Linked DNA regions of Homo sapiens: regions 2, 3 and 4 are each linked to region 1. The links come from fine-mapping of genetic effects on gene expression. A gene starts in region 1. Each other region holds a variant in brackets. All regions are shown on one strand. Distances are from middle to middle. Region 1 holds the start of APBA1 (amyloid beta precursor protein binding family A member 1). Region 2 holds the start of LOC124902178 (a long non-coding RNA gene). Region 3 overlaps LOC105376076 (a long non-coding RNA gene). Region 4 overlaps APBA1 (amyloid beta precursor protein binding family A member 1).

Region 1 (5,000 bases):
GATGACTTTTTTTTAAACCAAAATCTCTTAGAATGGCTTTTAAATTCCCTAAGTACTTTTCTCAGAAAGACATTTGGCATAACAAATAAGAGAGTAAAGAACTAAGATTCAAAATTCATTTTTATAAATCTATCCTTAAATCTTGGATGACAGCCAACAACCAACCTCACATTAAAATCTTAGAAGGCTTGACTTGAAGAACATGGGGAAATTTACTTTACATAGACAGCTTCAAGAGCACCTTGTCTATATATCATTAAATAAGATACATGGGAAGAAAAAAAAGCATATGTGGATAGCCCTAGTTTTATTATTTTCACAACGATATCATGCAATCTTTGCCCATAAAAGAAAGCAAAACAAAAATTTTAAAAAAGAAAAATAAATCTCTGGTGCCAACATGTTGTATATTTACTTGTGTAGCCATGACTGCTACGGGCTTTTCGAAGAGAACCGGGCAGCCAGTTTGGATTCCGACAATGCAGTAGAATTTAAGGTGTTATGACTAAAACATGTCCTAAGCAGATTAAGCTAGTCATACAACATTTTAATAAAGAAGTGTCGAGATATTAAGTGTAAAGTGCACTCATTCCTATGAATACCGCAGGAGAAACATAGGTGAGGGGGAATCACACTGCCCTGGATACACATGAATATGCCATCTCCCTGCCTACCTCTACCCAACCCTACCTACACACACCTATCTTTACCACGCAGAGACAATTAAACAGCCATAGACTCTGGATGCATTTCTGTGTCCTTGTTCCCACTGGGTGAGTTGTTGCCAGCCTGACATTTTTCCAAATTCCCTACTAGTGGGCTCTATCAGGTAGGAAAGCAGGGACTTTACTGACCTGGGACCCCATCGCTGTGGGTCTCAGGAGATTTCAGTTTCCAAATGATACACGGCACCACCTAGCTATTGTGACAGCTGGGAGAGTGGATGTCACCAGCAGTAGAAATAAAGTATCCTGTTTCCTGAGGAAAACGCCCTGGCTGTGTGATGCTGACCAAGTGGGCACCAAACATTTCTCCGTGTGATATTTTTCTTCTTTTTAAAAGACCGCCCCCCGCCCCACCGCATCTCTCTATACGTATACACCTCCAGAGTTCATTCTAAAAGAACCAACACAAAGACCATCCATCCTCTAGCCATAAGGTTTTCAGTGCTTAAATGTGGAAGGAGAAGGTCTAGCTAGCATTGAAAGTTGTGGGGACAGGAAGAGGAATCTGATCATTCAACATCCTTCTCCTTCTGGTCAGACAAGAGAAAAACAATAGAAACTGCACAGTCAGGGAGTACAAGACCCTTATGGAACAGGTGCTAAGGAGAGAAGTAGTATCACAGGATGGAAGGCCCCTTCAAAACCAGGTACATTAGCAAGCCCAGAATGTGTAACGGTTATCCTATTTCCCTGCCATGTGCCTCAAAGCAACATGCTCACTTCCACATCCCCATGTCATGAGGCCAGAGGAAGGGGAAGCGAGAATCCCTACACTGGGCCATCCACACGCAGGAGCAGAACAGACACTGTGCTCAGAGTTGCAGGGTCAAAATAACAAACACTGTCCCACAGTCTTAGCCGGTGACATCAAGTAAGGGCAGCGGCAGATCTCTGGATTTGGGGCGCAGTTTGGGGAACGTGGATGCAACCACACGCGTACACACACATATACAGGATTTTACAAACCGGCCCCTATCCCACTGCCTCCCTCCACACTTCACACACCAAGTGCATCCTGCCCACCTCACCGTTTCCATCATCACATTCTTTCTCCAGGAGAGTCAGCCGAGAGATGAGGGGGTCCTAGCGGGGATTCCTGGAAATGTCACCCCCCAACACCTCCGTCCGCCACCCCATCCCCTCTGCTGTACCTTTTACACACACACTCTCACACACTCACTCCTGCCATGACTGTCATCAGGCCCGCCTGCTGCGCCCGAAGCCCGGCATCTCAGCGGGCACCGGACCCCAGGCGTCTCGCTCGCAACGCCGCCTTCCCCCGCCTCGCTAGCTGATGGTTCCAGGCACTGCCTCCTGGATGTCGCCTGCTGCCTCCGCTCCTCCGCACTATTGTTCCAGGCAGCCCCTCTCGCGTCCGGGGGCGCCCTTTGGCGAGGACCCGGGCTCCGTCGGGGGCCGCATCAGCGCCGGGCACCCCTTCTCACCCACCCCTCCCTGGCTGTGGTACCTTGCCTGACAGCTGGGTCCGCGGGCCCGCGGGAGCAGGCGGCGCTAGTGACAGCGCTGGTGCCAAGCCTGGGAATAAAGCTCCGCTCCAGCCGCTGCTGCCTCCAGCGCCACCATCTTCTCCCGCCGCAGCTGCCGCCGCCGCCGCCGCCGCCGGGACCGCAGCCGCCCTCGCCCAGCTCCGGCTCCGCAGCCGCTGCTCGGACCCCTCCGGTCTCGCGGCCCCACCCCCTTTCCCCACCCTCCCTCCCGCCCTCCAGCTAGCTCGCTGGCCCCTCGTGACGCGCGCTGGGGCCGGGCGGGCCTGCGAGGGAGGGCGCGGGGGAGCGCGCGCGCGCACGCCGCCTGCTAGTAGCGCCCCTGCCTCCCTCGCCCACTCGCGTGCGCGCGCGGCCCGCGAGCCCGCGGCGGCGGCGGCGGCACCGCTGATGTCCTCCGTGGGCCGCCGGCTGCAGCGCCCCTGCCCCGGCGCCGGTGGGCGTGCGGCACACCCGCGCCTCTCGCCTTCCCTCGCGTCCGGGTTCCGAAGGGCCCGCCCTGCCTTTCGGAATGGGTTCCACAGCCCCATCCTCTGGCTCCCGGCCGGACGCAAGGAGGGGAAAATGCAGCTGCATCCCCGAGGGGACTGACGGGGGCCTCCACCCTCCTCGGTGGCAACCCAGGTGGTCCCCAGTTTCCTAGCCAGCAGCTGTGGCCAACCTCTGCGCGAAGCAACGGGCCACGCTGCAGGACCACGAAGCCAGGCAGCCGCGTCGACTCCTGCAGGGTGTTCTCTCCGGAGTGACTCCCGAGCTTTCCCGCTTCCCAGGCCCCTTAGATATCGCCTGCGCTTCAAATTCGGAGATTGACGGCGTCTCCGGAATGCGTCGCAGTCCTGCGAGTTCTCCGCCAGGGGGAGAGCCGCGCGGGCTTGGGCCTGAGCGAAGACAGCCGGGCTGCAGCCCTCCAGGGGAACTGCCGAGTCCCGCCGGGGACAGCGGAGAGCCTGCGGATTGTGAAGCCGAGGAAGGCTCGGCTTGGTTTTCCTACCCGCTCCTCAGTTCTGGTTGATCGGAACTTAAGTGTCTTTGAGCCTAGCACAGGCCATCCGCCCTAGATATGGCTCCTAACTCGAGAGGCCACCCTTTGCGGCAGGGACCAGGTGGCAAGTGCTGTGCATTAATGAAAAGCTGTGGGCTAGACAGGCCCCGGGAGGCCTGGGCTCTGGCGCCAGCCCCACCTGTAATTGGCAATGCAATAGCTAAATCATTCCCCCTCTTAGAAACACAGATTTTTCCATAATAATGTTATAATGCACAAAGCCTTGTAGTTTGCAAAGCCCTCTCCGCACATGTATTCTCCAGTAAAATGAAGATAAGCGCTGGTTATCCAGATCCCTTGGGAAATGGATCTTTTACCACACCGTGTTTCCATATTATTTTAAGCACGTCTCTAGAGAAGTCTGGGGGTGTAGCCTAAAGCATTCTGAAAGTCTTGTTTTAGCTTTAAAATTCATATGAATTTTGCATTGTACTTTGTAATTTTTTTTTGCTTTAATAAAACAATAGCTACCTTCTCAAAAAGATTTTAGTAAAATTTAAAATTATATACTAGGAAGATGTCTGCTTGTCCTGTGACATTACTCATATTTTTTCCGGTGAATACTTATTTGGCATATGTACGAGCCAGACATGGTCCTTTTCCACCAGAGCTCACAGTACGCTGAAGGAAATAGGTATTCAACTATCAGACTGGCCAGGCGCGGTGGCTCACGCCTGTAATCCCAGCACTTTGGGAGGCTGAGTCCAGCAGATCACTTTAGGCCAAAAGTTTGAGATCAGCCTGGTCAACATGGCGAAACCCTGTCTCTACTAAAAACACAAAAATTAGCCGGGCGTGTTGGTGCACGCCTGTAATCCTAGCTACTCGGGAAGCTGAGGCACGAGAATGCTTGAACCGGGAGGCGGAGGTTGCAGTGAGCCGAGATCGCGCTACTGCACTCCAGCCTTGGTGTCTCAAAAAACAAACAAACAAATAAAACAATCAGACTAAGTGCAACTGTGATAAATTCTCAACTGCAAAGGCGCTAAGGTGCACGGGAAAACCTAATGTGGACTCTGGGACTAGGTAAGGCTTTCTAAGGAAATGACATTTCAGATCCCCCAGGAGAGGCAGCATTGAGACACTTCCAGGTAAAGGGAAGGAAATGTGAAAAGGCCCAAGCAGGTGGGGCCGAAGTGAGATGAGACTGGAGAGGCAGGCAGACTTTGTGGACCGTTTTTAAATAATGATTTTGTCTTATGAGCCTGGAAAGTCAATGAAGGGTTGCCAAGAGTTGGGAGCAGGCAAGCAGGATCACATTTCCGTTCCTGAAAGATGGCTGAGGTGGTTTGTGAGGAACTGATTCGTGGAGGGTCAGGATCCAGGGCGGAGAGAGTCTGAGCTTATCCTACTTAGTGAGTGTTTAGGGTTTTCTGTTTTTGCACTAACTGCTCTTTTGATTGTTTTTAGTTCTTGCCTCTGCTCTCCTGTGTACGCATCTAGGAGGCTTTCAGAGTGCTTCTCTGTAATAGTTTCTGTTTTGTTACTTTTAATCCACTGCAGTTTTAGGAAGGAAATGAACCCTGTTAGAATTTCAGGTTAAATAAGAGAATATAGGTTCTGAGTGAGAGGCTCTTTTCTGTGCATACACTTATTGCCATTTGGTTTGCTATCTCAGAGATCTTTCTGCTTATTTTCTACTTTTTGTGTTGCCTTTCCAGTTAGACTAGGTTCTTAGATGCATGAATAAGGGTTACATTATTGCTTTAATAATATCCTGGAATCTTA
Region 2 (5,053 bases), 200 kb before region 1:
CCCTCATAACTTCATGGTATGCAGATGGAAGCTAGCATCTTCATAGGGGCCTAAAACTTTTAAGTTATTATTTCCCAACCATTTCCCTACCCTTGTCCCAAGTAACTATAGCCTGGGGTAATGAGAGTTTGTTTAATCAGAATTGCTTAGCCTCCAGGTATATCTAAGAAGTCAATTCACATTTTCTTGCTCTATTTTGATACTTTTCTGAATGCTAGACAGTGTCCAGATTTTAGCAGAAGCTACAAAAGAATTACTTTGGTCTATAGCTCTAAAAGCTGCAGTTTTATTAAGAGCTACACCAACATGGCACATGTATACGTATGTAACTAACCTGCATGTTGTGCACATGTACCCTAAAACTTGAAGTATAATTAAAAAAATTAAAAAAAAGATAAGTTTGAAAAAAATAATTTGGCAAAATAAAGTTTACCATCTTTAAAAAAAAAGCTGCAACAGAGGGCATTTGGTACATTCACTTATTCTCTATGCATGAGCTCATGACTAGCTTTCTTAGTCTCTGGGGTAGTAAATTTTTTTAAAAAGAGTTTTGTGAAATGAAAGAATCTCTAATTATTACACACAAATAGGATTTTCATCATCATTTCTAAGGATATATAGAAACATGAGCCAAGTCTTGTAGGAACTGAGAAACTAACAAATTTGCCTTATTATATCTAATGCATAATCAAATGCTGAATATTTAGATGTCTGGTTAGCCCTTTATTTCACATGTGGACTGAGATGAACATCAGTTGATCCTTAACTTTCAAGAATAAATAAATAAAGTTGCATTTAAAAAGCTAAAGGCTAAGATCTTTGGGGTTTGGGTTTGGGGGTCACACAAATCGACTCGTGCAGAACTTGGAGGCACAATTGGACAACTGGAACAATGACAGACAAGGTACCTTGTCCATGTAGTCTGTGACCTGCAAACACTTTCTACTCCAGCAGTGGCAGATCTTGGCAGTTAAGAGCACGGGTTCCCATGAGTTCTGGATTTGAATCCTGGCTGACCACTTGTGAGCTCTACAATCTCAGGTAAGTTATTCAACCTCTTAGCTTTTTCAACCAGCAAATGAGGACAGTGATACCTACCTCACAGAATTATTTTAAGAATTAAATGAGACACTATCTGTGATTTTTCTCAGCCCAGTTCCTGGAACATTGTCAATGCTCAAGAAACGATAGTGCTCATGACTGTTATCATCAGGGCACCTGTCCTTCTTTTCTTCTTACTATTTGTTCTCACCCAACCATGTGATATAAGAATGAAGCAAACTGTGGAACGGTGGGAACAGCAGAAACTGTGCCCTTGTCACTTGTGCTCCCAATGGCCAAGTGTCTGAGGCTCAAGACCAGAGGAGACCAAAGTATATTTCTAGTCTAAATTCTAATGTTGGTGTCATTTCAGAGAAGGTCTATGTTTGTTTGTTTGGTTTAATATGAACAGATTAATAAAAAATACTTTTCCTTTGTGTAAATATTTAATGGCAAATATATGGTATTCAAGGGTGCCTTAAGGGTAAATTTTAACTAAGACTCCCTTTAAAAGCGATCTGCCACTCAGTTTAAACAGAGATTTCTTTTTCATTGCATTTAACATAAAATTATCAGCAAAATGAGGGAAAAGGAAACCATCGTTCATCATGTGGTTTACCTCTTTAACACATCTCCTCAGTGTTGATGAGAGAGCAGCTATATTTAGAGTGAGCTGAGCCCACACACAGATTATGGCGCAGACCAACATTTACCTGATGTTGGCTCATTAGCAGGTGTGGGTGGCAGTTCACTAGGTGTAAAAGGACCCTGGGTACGGGGGAAGGCAGTGTCTCCCCTCTGGGGCTGCCCTTTCTCAGACCCAGACACCTCAATGGGAGAAAGCAGCATCTTCTCACTGAAATGCTCCACATAAGCAAGGCGACCACAGAATTTGTTGTCCAAAAGGGATACTTTAGAGCTGCACTGTCTGGCAGTCTGCAGCCACACGTGGCTATTTAAGTTAATTAAAATGGGATAAAATGAAAACTTCAGTTCCTCAGTTACACTGGCCACATTTCCAGGGTTTGACAGGCACATGAGGCTAATGACTACCATAGTGGACAGAGCAGAAGTGGAACATTTCCAGCACCGTGGAAAGTTCTCGCAGGCGGCACTGCACCAGCAAGAGAGAAGGGCGCTCATAAGATGGGCTGCCTGGACAACAGGTGTGAACTGGAACCACACCCTAGGTAAACTGGGAATGTATGGCC[A/G]CTCTATTCTTACGAAAGATATCTCATTTGGGCCTGAAATAAAGGGTATTTAAGAAACTAACACATTTCCCAAAGCACACAGCAACTGCAAGCCCATGGCATCAGCAGGCATGTAACGCCAGGAGGAAAGATGCTGTACGTCGAGTTTTTGGTGTCTGAGGTCAAGTGCTGTTCAACAGAATTTCCTGCAGTGATGCAAATGCTCTGTAATCCACCCTGTCCGAGCACTTGAAATGTGGCTACTGTGCTTGAGGAAATAAACTTTTCATTTTATTCATTAATTAGGCACCTGCAGCCAGTGGCTATCAAACTGGATGACATGGCTTTAACAGGTGAACTGCACACTGGAGAGGAGAAATCAGGATTGTTCTCACCAGGGTAATGTGGGTCAGGAGCGCTGTAGGATGCTGTATTAGGAAGCACAGAACAGTATTAGAGTAAAGCAAAATGGCCCAATGGCTTTGGTAACAAAACAGCACCCTACCTCTTTATTAGTGGACGCTTCCACAGGGTCACTGGGGTGAAGAGATGTGCTTGATGACTCTGCACCCAAGGGGGAGGAGCTGCCAGGAGACGGAGACTAGAACACAGCAAGAGGAAACACAGTGAGAACTTGAGAGACTCGGCAGACACTTGGCTGGGGGAAAGGGGCCGGGAGAGAGAAGCAAAGCAGAACACAATCGAACAGACACTGCAGTGGGGAGAAAACCTCTTAAAAAGGAGCTGCCAACTGTACATAAAACACTTGTGGTTTTCAAGCTTTCTTTTTCAAGTCCTGCCATGCTTTCAAAGGAGCTTTCATAGCTATGGGCCGTTTTTCCCCTTAGGCCAAATGTTGAAAGAAAATACAGAAAAGGTTGAAATTAAAAAATCCTAAATGAATTGAGCTAAGGATATTACACAAACATGTTTAAAACATTTTTTTCTTACTGATGAAGCCAAATATTTAGGGTACCGAATGTCTTATAAAATTGCCTGCCCCAAATGAAAAAGTAAAAATTAAAACACACATTTTTAAAGAGGTAGCTGGGCCTGATTTTGATGGCTAGAAACCATACCACCTGTATTTTCCTAGTCAATTCAGATTTCAAATATTTTGTCTGATTTAGTCTACAGGCTATTGAAAATTCAGAGACATTTCAGCATTTTAACATCCAAACACTACCCTGGATGCTCTTAGAACAGTTCAAAAATCCTTTGTCAAACGGTGTATCGGAAAATAAGGCTTAGAAAAATAGGCTCAGGGAGAATGGCCTGGTTGGGTGTGGTATTGCCTGGGCTGATGGGACCCCAGCTCCCTGTGCAGGCAGGCCCTGCTAGACGTGTATAGGAAGCTCCCAGGTCAGTGTACACAGAAGGTGCTCCATAAACATCTTCTGAATGGATGGGCAAATAAAACAAGCAAGCACAGGGATGGGACTGATACAGACCCGGAAAACACTCCCCAGCCTATAGCCAAACATTGTTGTGTGCTTCTGAAATCTTGGGAGATGAAAGGAATCCTCAGGTGAGCCACAGAGATGCTTAAGAATTCCACAGCAGGGGGCGGCGGAGCCAAGATGGCCGAATAGGAACAGCTCCAGTCTACAGCTCCCAGCGTGAGCGACACAGAAGATGGGTGATTTCTGCATTTCCATCTGAGGTACTGGGTTCATCTCACTAGGGAGTGCCAGACAGTGGGCGCAGGTCAGTGGGTGCGCGCACCGTGCGCCAGCCGAAGCAGGGCGAGGCATTTCCTCACTTGGGAAGTGCAAGGGGTCAGGGAGTTCCCTTTCTGAGTCAAAGAAAGGGGTGACGGACGCACCTGGAAAATCGGGTCACTCCCACCCGAATATTGCGCTTTTCGGACCGGCTTAAAAAACCGCGCACCACGAGATTATATCCTGCACCTGGCTCAGAGGGTCCTACGCCCACGGAGTCTCACTGATTGCTAGCACAGCAGTCTGAGATCAAACTGCAAGGCAGCAGCGAGGCTCGGGGAGGGGCGCCCGCCATTGCCCGGGCTTGCTTAGGTAAACAAAGCAGCCTGGAAGCTCGAACTGGGTGGAGCCCACCACAGCTCAAGGAGGCCTGCCTGCCTCTGTAGGCTCCACCTCTGGGGGCAGGGCACAGACAAACAAAAGGCAGCAGTAGCCTCTGCAGACTTAAATGTCCCTGTCTGACAGCTTTGAAGAGAGCAGTGGTTCTCCCAGCACGCAGCTGGAGATCTGAGAACGGGCAGACTGCCTCCTCAAGTGGGTCCCTGACCCCTGACCCCCGAGCAGCCTAACTGGGAGGCACCCCCCAGCAGGGGCACACTGACACCTCACACGGCAGGGTATTCCAACAGACCTGCAGCTGAGGGTCCTGTCTGTTAGAAGGAAAACTAACAAACAGAAAGGACATCCACACCAAAAACCCATCTGTACATTACCATCATCAAAGACCAAAAGTAGATAAAACCACAAAGATGGGGAAAAAACAGAACAGAAAAACTGGAAACTCTAAAACGCAGAGCGCCTCTCCTCCTCCAAAGGAACGCAGTTCCTCACCAGCAACAGAACAAAGCTGGATGGAGAATGACTTTGACGAGCTGAGAGAAGAAGGCTTCAGACGATCAAATTACTCTGAGCTACGGGAGGACATTCAAACCAAAGGCAAGGAAGTTGAAAACTTTGAAAAAAATTTAGAAGAATGTATAACTAGAATAACCAATACAGAGAAGTGCTTAAAGGAGCTGATGGAGCTGAAAACCAAGGCTCGAGAACTACGTGAAGAATGCAGAAGCCTCAGGAGCCGATGCGATCAACTGGAAGAAAGGG
Region 3 (5,053 bases), 100 kb after region 1:
TCAATTACCAAATTTTGCTAATTCCTGTATAATTAGTTCATACATTGTATTAGTCAGGGTTCTCTTAGAGGGAGAGAACTAATAGGATATATTATATCCTATAGGATATAATATATCCTATTAATATATATATATACTGAGAGAGACAGGAGTTTATTAAGTATTAACTTACATGATCGCAAGCTCCCATAATAGGCTGTCTGAAGCTGAGGAGAAAGGAAGCCAGTCTGAGTCCCAAAACTGAAGAATTTGGAGTCCGATGTTCAAGGGCAAGAAGCACCCAGCACAGGAGAAAGATGTAGACTAGGAGGCTAGGCCCATCTTGTCCTTTGAGTTTTTTTCCTGCCTGCTTTATATTCGCTGGCAGCTGATTAGGTTGTGCCCACCAGATTAAGGGTGGGTCTGCCTTTCCCAGCCCACAGACTCAAATATTAATCTCCTTTGGCAACATCCTCACAGACACACCCAGGGGATCAATACTTTGTATCCTTCAATCCAATCAAGTTGACATTCAGTATCAACTGTCACATAAATATACCAGAGTCCCTGACTATCTAAGCAAACTGTTAGCCACTGTCCATGAATCAATGTTGACCTACTCCTCTGCCATGTCTCTTTTTAGTCTAAGTGGACTGCTAGATATACAGTCTGAAGTTCTGCCTACTTGGAGAATCTCCCTTCTCAGTTTTTAAAGACTATTTCTGAGTGAGGCTGTCATGCTAAAGCCATCCACTTTTGGGTAGTACCAACATATTGTGGAGAGCTGTTTGGAAACAAAACGAGGCCCAAATTTTCTCTTCCTCAGTCACATGTCATAGAGAATTCTCCATGAGGCCATATATGTAGATCGAGGGAGAGATATCAATGCAATAGGAGTAAGTACAGTCATTCCTCAGTATCTGTGGAGGATTGTTTCCAGGATCCCTGTGGATACCAAAATCTGTACATGCTCATGTCGCTTATATAAAATGGCACAATTTTTGTATATATCCTATGCACATCTTCCTATATAGTTTGCTTTCATTTTGTTTTTTGGTTTTTTTGAGATGGAGTTTCGCTCTTGTTACCCAGGCTGGAGTGCAATGGTGCAATATCGGCTCACTACAACCTCCACCTCCCGGATCCAAGCGATTCTCCTGCCTCAGCCTCCCAAGTAGCTGGGATTACAGGCACGTGCCACTACTTCCAGCTAATTTTTTGTATTTTTAGTAGAGACGGGGTTTCACCATGTTGGCCAAGCTGGTCTCAAACTCCTGACCTCAGATGATCCACCTTCCTTGGCTTCCCAAGTGCTGGGATTATAGGTGTGAGCCACCGCACCCAGCCTATACTTTAAATCATCTCTAGATTACTTCAAATACCTAATAAGATGTAAATGCTATGTAAATGGTTGTGATACTATATTGATTCTTTTAATCTGTATTATGTTTTTATTTTTTCTGAATATTTTTGATGATCATTGAGTTGAATCCAGGAATGCAGAACCCACTGATACTGAAGGTGTCTGGGTCACTTACTCTTGCAACTTGTGTCTTTGGGAACTGTTTGAGCCTGATCTTGTATATCTCATTTACAGCATTGTGGTCCTGAGTCAGGTAACACCGTAGCTCTCTATGGAAAGCTCATGTCACATGACTAGTTAGTGTTTCTTAGTCAGATATTCAGTCCTGGGGGCCCAATAGCAACCCCAGAACGGTTTCTCAAAAGTGTAATGCTTATCAACGAAAAGGGTTGGCTTTTCCCCCAAAACCCAAGGGGTATTGCCATGGCATTTTTTATTTGCTACTGTTAGAACATTTCAATGTGCTCTTTCAGCACCATTCAATCTGCTGAGTCATGTGGCCCAAGATCAGCTTGCGTAGAAGCTTAGAGCTGCCACAGAAGCTTCTGTTGCTCTGGAATCCATTCAAATCTATGGGTTACTCAGTAAGTGACTCAAAGTAGAACATTCAACTAGGGTATATGTCACAATTTGAATCCAAAGTGGCCCTTGTGTCTCCTTCTCAGTGGTAGAGTGTGCAAGATGAAGCAACTTGCCCTTCACCTTGGTAGAAATGTGCCATGCCTCAACTAATGGACTCCTAGAAACTTCACTAAGGTGGCAGGCCCTTGAATGTTTTAAGGGTTTATCTTCCATCCTCTGTCATGCATGTGTCTAGCAAGATATCTAGGGTACTTCCGGCTAATTCCTGCACACAAAGTTGAATCCCTCAAAGTAATAAAGGAGTAAAAGCCCTCATTATATTCTCATAGACTCCTTTATATATCAAATGCATTTAAACAGTTGTCTAATTAGTTCCATATCTTTATCCATCTACAGAGTGTAAATTTCACAAGGGCTGGAACTGTATTTCTCCTGTTTATTTTATGTACCACTGTGTATGTTGCATTGCAATATAGTGGGCTCTGAGTACTTAAATGGATGGATGGATGAAAGGAAAGGATGGGAAACAATAGGGAAGGGTAGAATAACCTACATGTATAAATGTAATAAAGAAATAGTAGAGGAAGTCACTTGGAATTTAGTCAGAGGCCTAATCATGAGGAACCTTGAGGCCATATTTTGGCAGTGCCAAGGTGGGCGGATCACTAGGTCAGGAGTTCAAGACCAGCCTGGCCAACATTGTGAAACCACATCTCTACTAAAAATACAAAAATTAGCTGGCTGTGGTGGCATGTGTTTGTAATCCCAGCTACTTGGGAGGCTCAGGCAGGAGAATCGCTTGAACCCGGGAGGCAGAGGTTGCAGTGAGCCAAGATTGCACCACTGCACTCCAGCCTGGGCGACAGAGCAAGACTCTGTCT[CA/C]AAAAAATAAAAAATAAAAAATAAAAAATTCTGAAGAGTTAGAGCCATTGAAAGCATTTTTGCTTCTTTGTTGAAATCCGCTCATTCTTCAAGAGTGTTCTTATTAACTTATACATTGTTTTAGTTATACAAAAATATATAAATGCACACACACACACACACACACATATATATGCTTCTACACTCCTGGGTTTTATCACATAACAAAATGAGATAATCCATTTCATCTTTATTGTTGTTTCCCTGGTACCTGGTACAGTTCCTGAATATAGTAAGCACTGCAAATGTAGTGCTGAGTCAGCTGAACAAACAAAGACCCAATTCCATTGCCACCTTTCCCATGAAGTCTTCATTAATCACCTCAGTTCGAAATGCTCTCCTAGAAATAGGAATGCTTTTACACTATTGGTGGGAGTGTAAATTAGTTCAACCATTATGGAAGACAGTGTGGTGATTCCTCAAGGATCTAGAACCAGAAATAGACCCAACAATCCCATTACTGGGTATGTACCCAAAGGTTTATCAATCATTCTACTATAAAGATACATGCACACATATGTTTATTTCAGCACTATTCACAATAGCAAAGACTTGGAACCAACCCTAATGCCCATCAACAATAGACTGGATAAAGAAAATGTAGCACATATACACCATGGATAAAGAAAATATGGCACATACACACCATGGAATACTATGCAGCCATAAAAAAAAATGTGTTCATGTCCTTTGCAGGGACATGGATGAAGCTGGAAACCATTATTCTAAGCAAACTAACACAGGAACAAAAAACCAAACACCATTGATTCTCATTCATAATTGAGAGTTGAACAATGAGAACATATGGGCACAGGGAGGTGAACATCACACACCAGGGCCTGTCGTGGTGTGGAGGGTAAGGAGAGGGATAGCATAAGGAGAAATACCTAATGCAGATGATAGGTTCATCGGTGCAGCAATCCACCATGGCACATGTATACCTATGTAACAAACCTGCACGTTCTGCACATATATTCCAGAACTTAAAAAGTATAACAATGAAAAAAAAAAAAGAAAAAAGAAATGCTTTCCTATAATCTTGGACTCCACTGTACTTTTATAGCCTTTGTTTGGCACTTTTCATATATGACCTTGTTTTACAGTTATTTTTGTAAATCTCTAATATCTTTTTCTAAGTTGAAGTCATTGTCAGATTCATTTTTGTAACCCAACAACATGGTACAGTTCCTTATATGAGGCAGATATTAAGTATATATGTATTGAATGAAAAAAAGAGACAATGTATTTACTTTTTTATGGTTCATGTTATGAGTAGCAAAGAATTAATGTAATGAGAATCATAATTCTTAAAATTTGTCATCAATTTTCACAATTACCGTAGATATATTTTATTCTCTAATTCGATGTTATTTTTTCACCAATTGTGTGAGCGTGGAGAATATAGGAAAACCTTCATTTTGTAAAAAGTTATAAATAATTATGTAAGTCTTTTTAAAATTATTTTTTAAATTGAGATAGTCCCAAAACATAAAATTCACCCTTTGAAGCATGTAATTTAGTGGTTTTTAGTGTATTAACAAGATTATACAACCATTACCACTAATTCCAGAATATTTTGTTTTCTTTTTTTCTTTTTCTTTTTTTTTCCTGAGACAGATTCACCGTCTGTCACCCAGGCTAGGGTGCAGCAGGGCGATTTTGGCTCACTGCAACCTCTGCCTCCCGAGTTTGAGCAATTCTTCTTGCCTCAGCCTCCCGAGTAGCTGGGACTACAGGCGCCTGCCAACACGCCTGGCTAATTTTTGTATTTTTAGTAGAGACGGGGTTTCACCATGTTGGCCAGGCTGTTCTCGAACTCCTGACCTCAGGTGATTCACCCGCCTCAGCCTCCCAAAGTTCTGGAATTACAGGCTTAAGCCACTGCACCCAGCCAGAATATTTTCATTATTCTTCTCCTCCACTCTCCCCTTCCCCTGGACGTAGCTTTGATGAAGGTTCTTGCTTTGTCTCTTCAGACTGCTTTTTCTTGCCCTTTAGCTTGCCTTGTAATCTTTTGCTAAAAACTTCGTATAATGTATGGGATAATAGAAAAGTTATAATGGTAATGTGGCCAGAAGCTGGGCTGTGTTTAATGTTTGCTGAAACCGTAAGCGCCAGTGGATTCAGTTTCCTCAGGTGTACTTGTATCTTTCTTCCTTGTTATCTTTAGGTTTTCCTAAGAACTTCTTAGATAGAATCTGTGGCCTG
Region 4 (5,053 bases), 170 kb before region 1:
ACTTATGAAAGGGTCTTTACAGCAAATTCTTTTGACAATGGCAGTCCCTTGGGGATAAAGTTAAACTCCTCCTTCTGAGCAGTCCACCATGGACCTGCTCTTTCTTCAGGACAACACCTCCTCTTTTCCATTTCCACAGCCTGCCCTAGTCCCAGCTTTTTCTGACATAGCCCCCTGCACCATCTCTGTGCTAGCTCTCACACACCTTCCCTTTTACGCCACTTTGGTTTCATCGTCCATCGGTCACTTCGGGATCTGCAAATCTGCCTCATCTCAGCCAGACAACAAAACAAATGCAGCCCAGGAGTTCGGAATGGTTGACAAGGTCAGTGGGAGAGGACAAGGCCAGCAGCTGCTCTGCCCTAAATTTGAAGCCCAGTAGCTCTTTGCTGGCATGGAACGATGACAGATACCAAATGTGGAAGGCAGAGTTCTCAGATGGCTCCCAATCATCTCCACCTCCTGGTATTCAGCCTCTTGGGTAATCTCCTCCCTGGGGAGGGAGCACGGCTGAGTGACTTACTCTAAGCAATAAAATACAGCAAAGGTGATAGGATATCACCCTGTGACTGGGTTACAAAAAACCATGACTTCCATCTTGCTACCAGACTCCATGACCTTCTTATCCTGCATACTTTATGAAGCAAGATGCCAAGTGTCAGACAGCCCATGTAGCAGAGAACTGAGGACACCTCTGGCCAACAGTCAACTGGGAACTGAGGCCCTCAGCATCAATGCCCATGGGAAGCTGAGTCCTGCCCCACAAGCATGTGAGCTTGAGATGACTGCAGGCCACCTGACCCCCTGATGGCAGCCTCCAAGAGACCCTAATGGAGAGAAACTGTGAGATAGTCAAGGAAGGTTGTTTTATGCCACTAAATTTTGGGGAAATTTGTTACACAGCAATAGATAATTAAGACACTAAATAAGGATTCAGATGAAAGGCTTAAGAGCAGAGGAGGCTTGAAGGTCTCGCTTGGGGCTTGACAAAGGACTAGCTTAGATTGTACACTCTGCACCAGCAGAGCCTGTCTGTGTCAGTCAGAGCCTCTATCTGTCATTGCTGTATCCCTGGGGTCTTGCACAGTGCGTGATCTATAGAAGGATCTAACAACGTTTATTGAATGAGTGGATGATAAATTGTAAGATGCACTTTCAACTTTTGACCTAGAACAGTAGTCACAAACTCTCTGTAGTTCACTGGCAAAATAAGGAACAGCATAGCTTTGAGGCCATATTTCTTATTCCTTTATGTAGCTAGTGTTCAATGAAACACAAAGGTATCAGCAGAGAAACAGCTATGACAGCTCAGCTTAATCACTTTGCATGGCAGACGGTTGAGAACACATTTATACCTCTGATACCATTTGCTTGTGTAAGAAGTTTCCCATCCTTTTCTGAGGTCTGCCTGGAAAACACACTGGGTTCCATTTCTGCTGTCCCAGCAGCGGGTCCTTTGGTTCTAAGGTTATGCTTCTGAATAAGCTTCTGGGATGTTGACTTAAAGGGTATGCCAGCCCCATTTTTCTAAACAGTCTGGATCATATAAGAAAACAAAGTTGGTTTTAGAGCCAACACTGGAATGTATACTCTTCTGCAGCAGGTAAGGGAAAATCGGAGATAAGGATGCCTGGAGTTTTCTTCCTCTTAACAGCACAAATGGAGACAGACTGGGGCTAACTATCCTAGAACCACCCTTCTTCCCTTCCCTAGGAATACATCACATTCCAGCCAAGAATTGATCCACTTGGGGAAATAGGGTTCCAACTGAACACATATTAATCCTAAATTCTGTCTACTTGATTTCAGATCCCATTTCAACTTCATCCCTTGCTAACCGGATCCTGGAAAAATTTTGTCTGTTCAGAACTCTGCAAGGTGTAATCAGCAAGAGGAAATCTCTCAGTTCAGAATACCTTAACAAGAATCCTTCACAAAAAATGGCATCCTTTGGCAGCAAGACAGTTCTTTTCGCTCGCCCTTGTAAGCTTGACAACACAACAGCAAGGTCGACAGGATAAGAGGCTCTAACAAGTCTTAATGAATTAGCATGTGCACTTGACCTTGGTCAGTAGTTTCCTAGCAACGGTCCAAAAAAAAAAAAAATCCATGTCGGTGGCATGCTGAATTCAGGGCAGGGAGAGGGTAACATCAAGGCAATCAAGGCCCCAGATGAAGCCATGAAGCTCCTACACCCTCACTGCAACATTTTTCTTGAAATTAAAAAAAAAAAGTGGATGTAAAAGTACACATGATCAGGGCAAGAGTTCACACCAAGCCCTTACTTCTCAGGATTTTGACAATACCTCCATCTCAGCAGGAGAGTGGCTGGTTTCTGATTAAGAAGCATTAGTGCTGAAATGGTTTCCTGCTTCAAAATACTTTCTCCAGTGGTCTCTGAAATCAGGAGTAGAATGCCAATAAAAGGTAAATGTTATCTGGAGGGGCGGTGCATGTTGCCATTATCACTAATTAGCAGTTTAGTTTGATTTAATCAGACCAACCCTGGAAGGAAAGGCTGACGGTATAATGCTGCTTAAGGTGGAAGCTGAGAACTAGGGTCGCCTGAGTGCCTGACCAGGATGGGCAGCCCAGTGGGGGATCTGAATGCTGAGGACAGCAGAAAGGAAACACTAGCCTAGAGAGGGTGAGGAAGGGCTACTAAAGGCCAGCCCCCTAATTCAGATCGCCAGTAACCAACCCCAAATGTTAAGTGAGCTTTGACTTCCAAATGTAACTGGCACAACAAACTTGTGATTCTTGTTTCACATTTCCATATAGGACTCGATATCTGCAAAACCATTTTCTCTCACAGCTTCCCTGGGACATAAACCTGATTAACTCATTTTACTGATGAGGAAACTGAAGGCTGGGAGGAAAGCAGGTGACAAACTCAAGGTAACTGCAGCAGATCGACTGTGAGCCAAATATTTACATACGATGGACACTCTGAGCAGCGCATCTGTGTGACTTGCTCTGAGAGAGATACAGGAGAACGATGAGACAC[C/T]GACAGTGAATTACAGAGGCAACAGGTTAACTCACGCAAGAAAAGCGGAAAATGAGATCCTAAAGAGTTGAGTGTTAAACTCTGGTCCACAGCTTAAGCTAGCACTTACCAATTTTGACTGAATCTTATTAACACCCGTGCCAAGACCCAACCTCCAGAGGCTCTAATCAAGAAGTCTGGGGCCTTGAAATCTATGTTTAAAGAGCGAAGCCCGGACTTTATCTAATCGGAATGTGACCTGGATAGAGGCGAGATCCGCATGATTACAAGCATGGGGTAGAGGCCAGTCCAGAGAAGCATAAAGACATTTAGCATTTTTCATTTTAAAGATGATCACATTTATAGCCAAATCGCATTTCATAATTCTCCCAGGTCACAAAAAGTCTATTTTCAGCTATTCCTTCCGGGTAAACTGGGGCCAAAATGTTCAGACTGACTCCAATTCTCCTTCAATCCATTACCAGACTTGTTTACTCACTTTTTGGTGTCCCACGGGTAGGGTCTGACCAAGAGGTCAGCTAGGCATGTCAAGCTGAATGTCTGTTGTCTCAATATGAGAAACAACAGGAGAAAAACTGCAAGTGGAACTCTTCAGGGGAGTGAAGTGGCCTGTGTCTAAACAGAAATCCTCCTCTCTTATCGCCGCTCTTAAGAAAGCAGTCAGCGAAGACTGTGTTTCAAAACAAGTGGACTGAGAAACTACATTTTTGGACTCAGAACATGTTGCCAGTTACACTTGTAATGGAAGTATTTTTCATTTTAAAGATGATCATGTTTGTACTCAAATCACATTTCATAACTCCCAGGACAACATGGGCTCCAGGATACAACTGGGTTACATATGAAATTCAATTATCTATGATATATCTGTTCCTCTCCCAGCACCTTCCCTTCTTCTCCAATATGGCCCCAGTACACGTATCACAGAAAATATGAGTGGCTGGGCATGGTGGCTCATGCCTGTAATATGACACTTTGAGAGGCCAATGCTTGAGGCCAGGAGTTTGAGACCAGCCTGGGCAACATAACAAGACTCTGTCTCTACAAAACACACACACACACACACACACACACACACACACACACACACACACACACTAGCTGGGCATGATGGTATGCACCTGTAGCCCTAGCTAGTAGGTAGGTTGAGGCAGGAGGATTCCTTGAGCCCAGGAGTGTGAGGCTGCAGTGAGCTAGGATTGTATCCTTGCACTCTAGCCTCGGTCACAGAGTGAGATTGTCTCTAAAGAGTGCATAGTCGGGGCAGAGGACACAATTTTTCTAAAGACTACTGGGCAGTTTATTGAGCATACACTTATTCAGCAAGCATGTCAGACACCCGAACTGTGGCCTATGAGCTGCAACTCTGACTAGCAACTGACAACAAAATTCTCTCTAGCTAAATCGTCCATTTATTTCCCTGTTGTTTGTCCCATCACTTCTTGGCACAGTTTCACATATATACTGTCTGGTGAGACAATCCATCAAAAAGTTGAGAAAGATTCCTCTTGGGAGAGGGGTCAGGCAAAGTGAAAAAAATTGGAGCCCAGAGGGTTAAAAAAGATCAATCTTCTCCATCAGTTTCTTTTATTCCACAGAACACACAGTAACTGGAAAACGTGCCTTCTGGTGTGCAGATCACCAGACAAGTTTTGCTCTGGTGATTTCTAGATGGTGATGGTCTGATGTCAGTGGGGGAGACACCTGCCAGGCAACACATCTTGCCTAGAGCTGAACCGACAGGTGAAACTCTAAAGACAAGCTAAAATAATTGGAGGCAATACTTCCAATCCAGGTGGTGAGATCAAAGCAAACATTCTCCCATCTCTTTTTGTTTTTTTTTCCTTGATTGAAATGAATCATTTGTTCTTCAAATGGGATTTCAGGGTGAAGCCTTTTCATTTTAAAGGTGTACCAGTAAAATCATTAAATCTTTAAAAAAATTACTCCGGTTGCATTAGGTTCTCACAGTTCATAGAAAAACGTCTCATTTTGTTGTTGTTATTGACAACTAAAGTCTCCTAGAGCATTATTCTCCACTGACAG

The links. PIP is the estimated chance that this variant, and not a neighbour inherited with it, causes the effect. A credible set is the group of variants that fine-mapping cannot tell apart.
Region 2: its variant is the best candidate, but not a certain one, in a credible set for the expression of APBA1 in whole blood (TOPMed, PIP 0.86).
Region 3: its variant is the best candidate, but not a certain one, in a credible set for the expression of APBA1 in whole blood (TOPMed, PIP 0.56).
Region 4: its variant is the best candidate, but not a certain one, in a credible set for the expression of APBA1 in nasal epithelium (TOPMed, PIP 0.74).

Annotation. Positions count from the first base shown.
Region 1 is chr9:69,669,960-69,674,959 of GRCh38, forward strand. APBA1 (amyloid beta precursor protein binding family A member 1) reads right to left here and starts at 2,412. Exons shown (of 13, transcript NM_001163.4): 1 at 2,194-2,412. RefSeq lists silencers at 2,180-2,259, 2,440-2,489.
Region 2 is chr9:69,473,312-69,478,364 of GRCh38, forward strand. APBA1 (amyloid beta precursor protein binding family A member 1) reads right to left here. Exons shown (of 13, transcript NM_001163.4): 3 at 2,737-2,832. It overlaps LOC124902178 (a long non-coding RNA gene), which reads left to right and starts at 952. Exons shown (of 2, transcript XR_007061570.1): 1 at 952-1,041. The variant A/G (reference allele first, on the strand shown) is at 2,253.
Region 3 is chr9:69,770,356-69,775,408 of GRCh38, forward strand. All of the region lies in intron 1 of LOC105376076 (a long non-coding RNA gene), which reads left to right. Among named protein-coding and RNA genes, the nearest start is that of PTAR1, 13 kb to the left of the region's middle. The variant CA/C (reference allele first, on the strand shown) is at 2,806.
Region 4 is chr9:69,497,575-69,502,627 of GRCh38, forward strand. All of the region lies in intron 2 of APBA1 (amyloid beta precursor protein binding family A member 1), which reads right to left. Among named protein-coding and RNA genes, the nearest start is that of APBA1, 170 kb to the right of the region's middle. The variant C/T (reference allele first, on the strand shown) is at 3,008.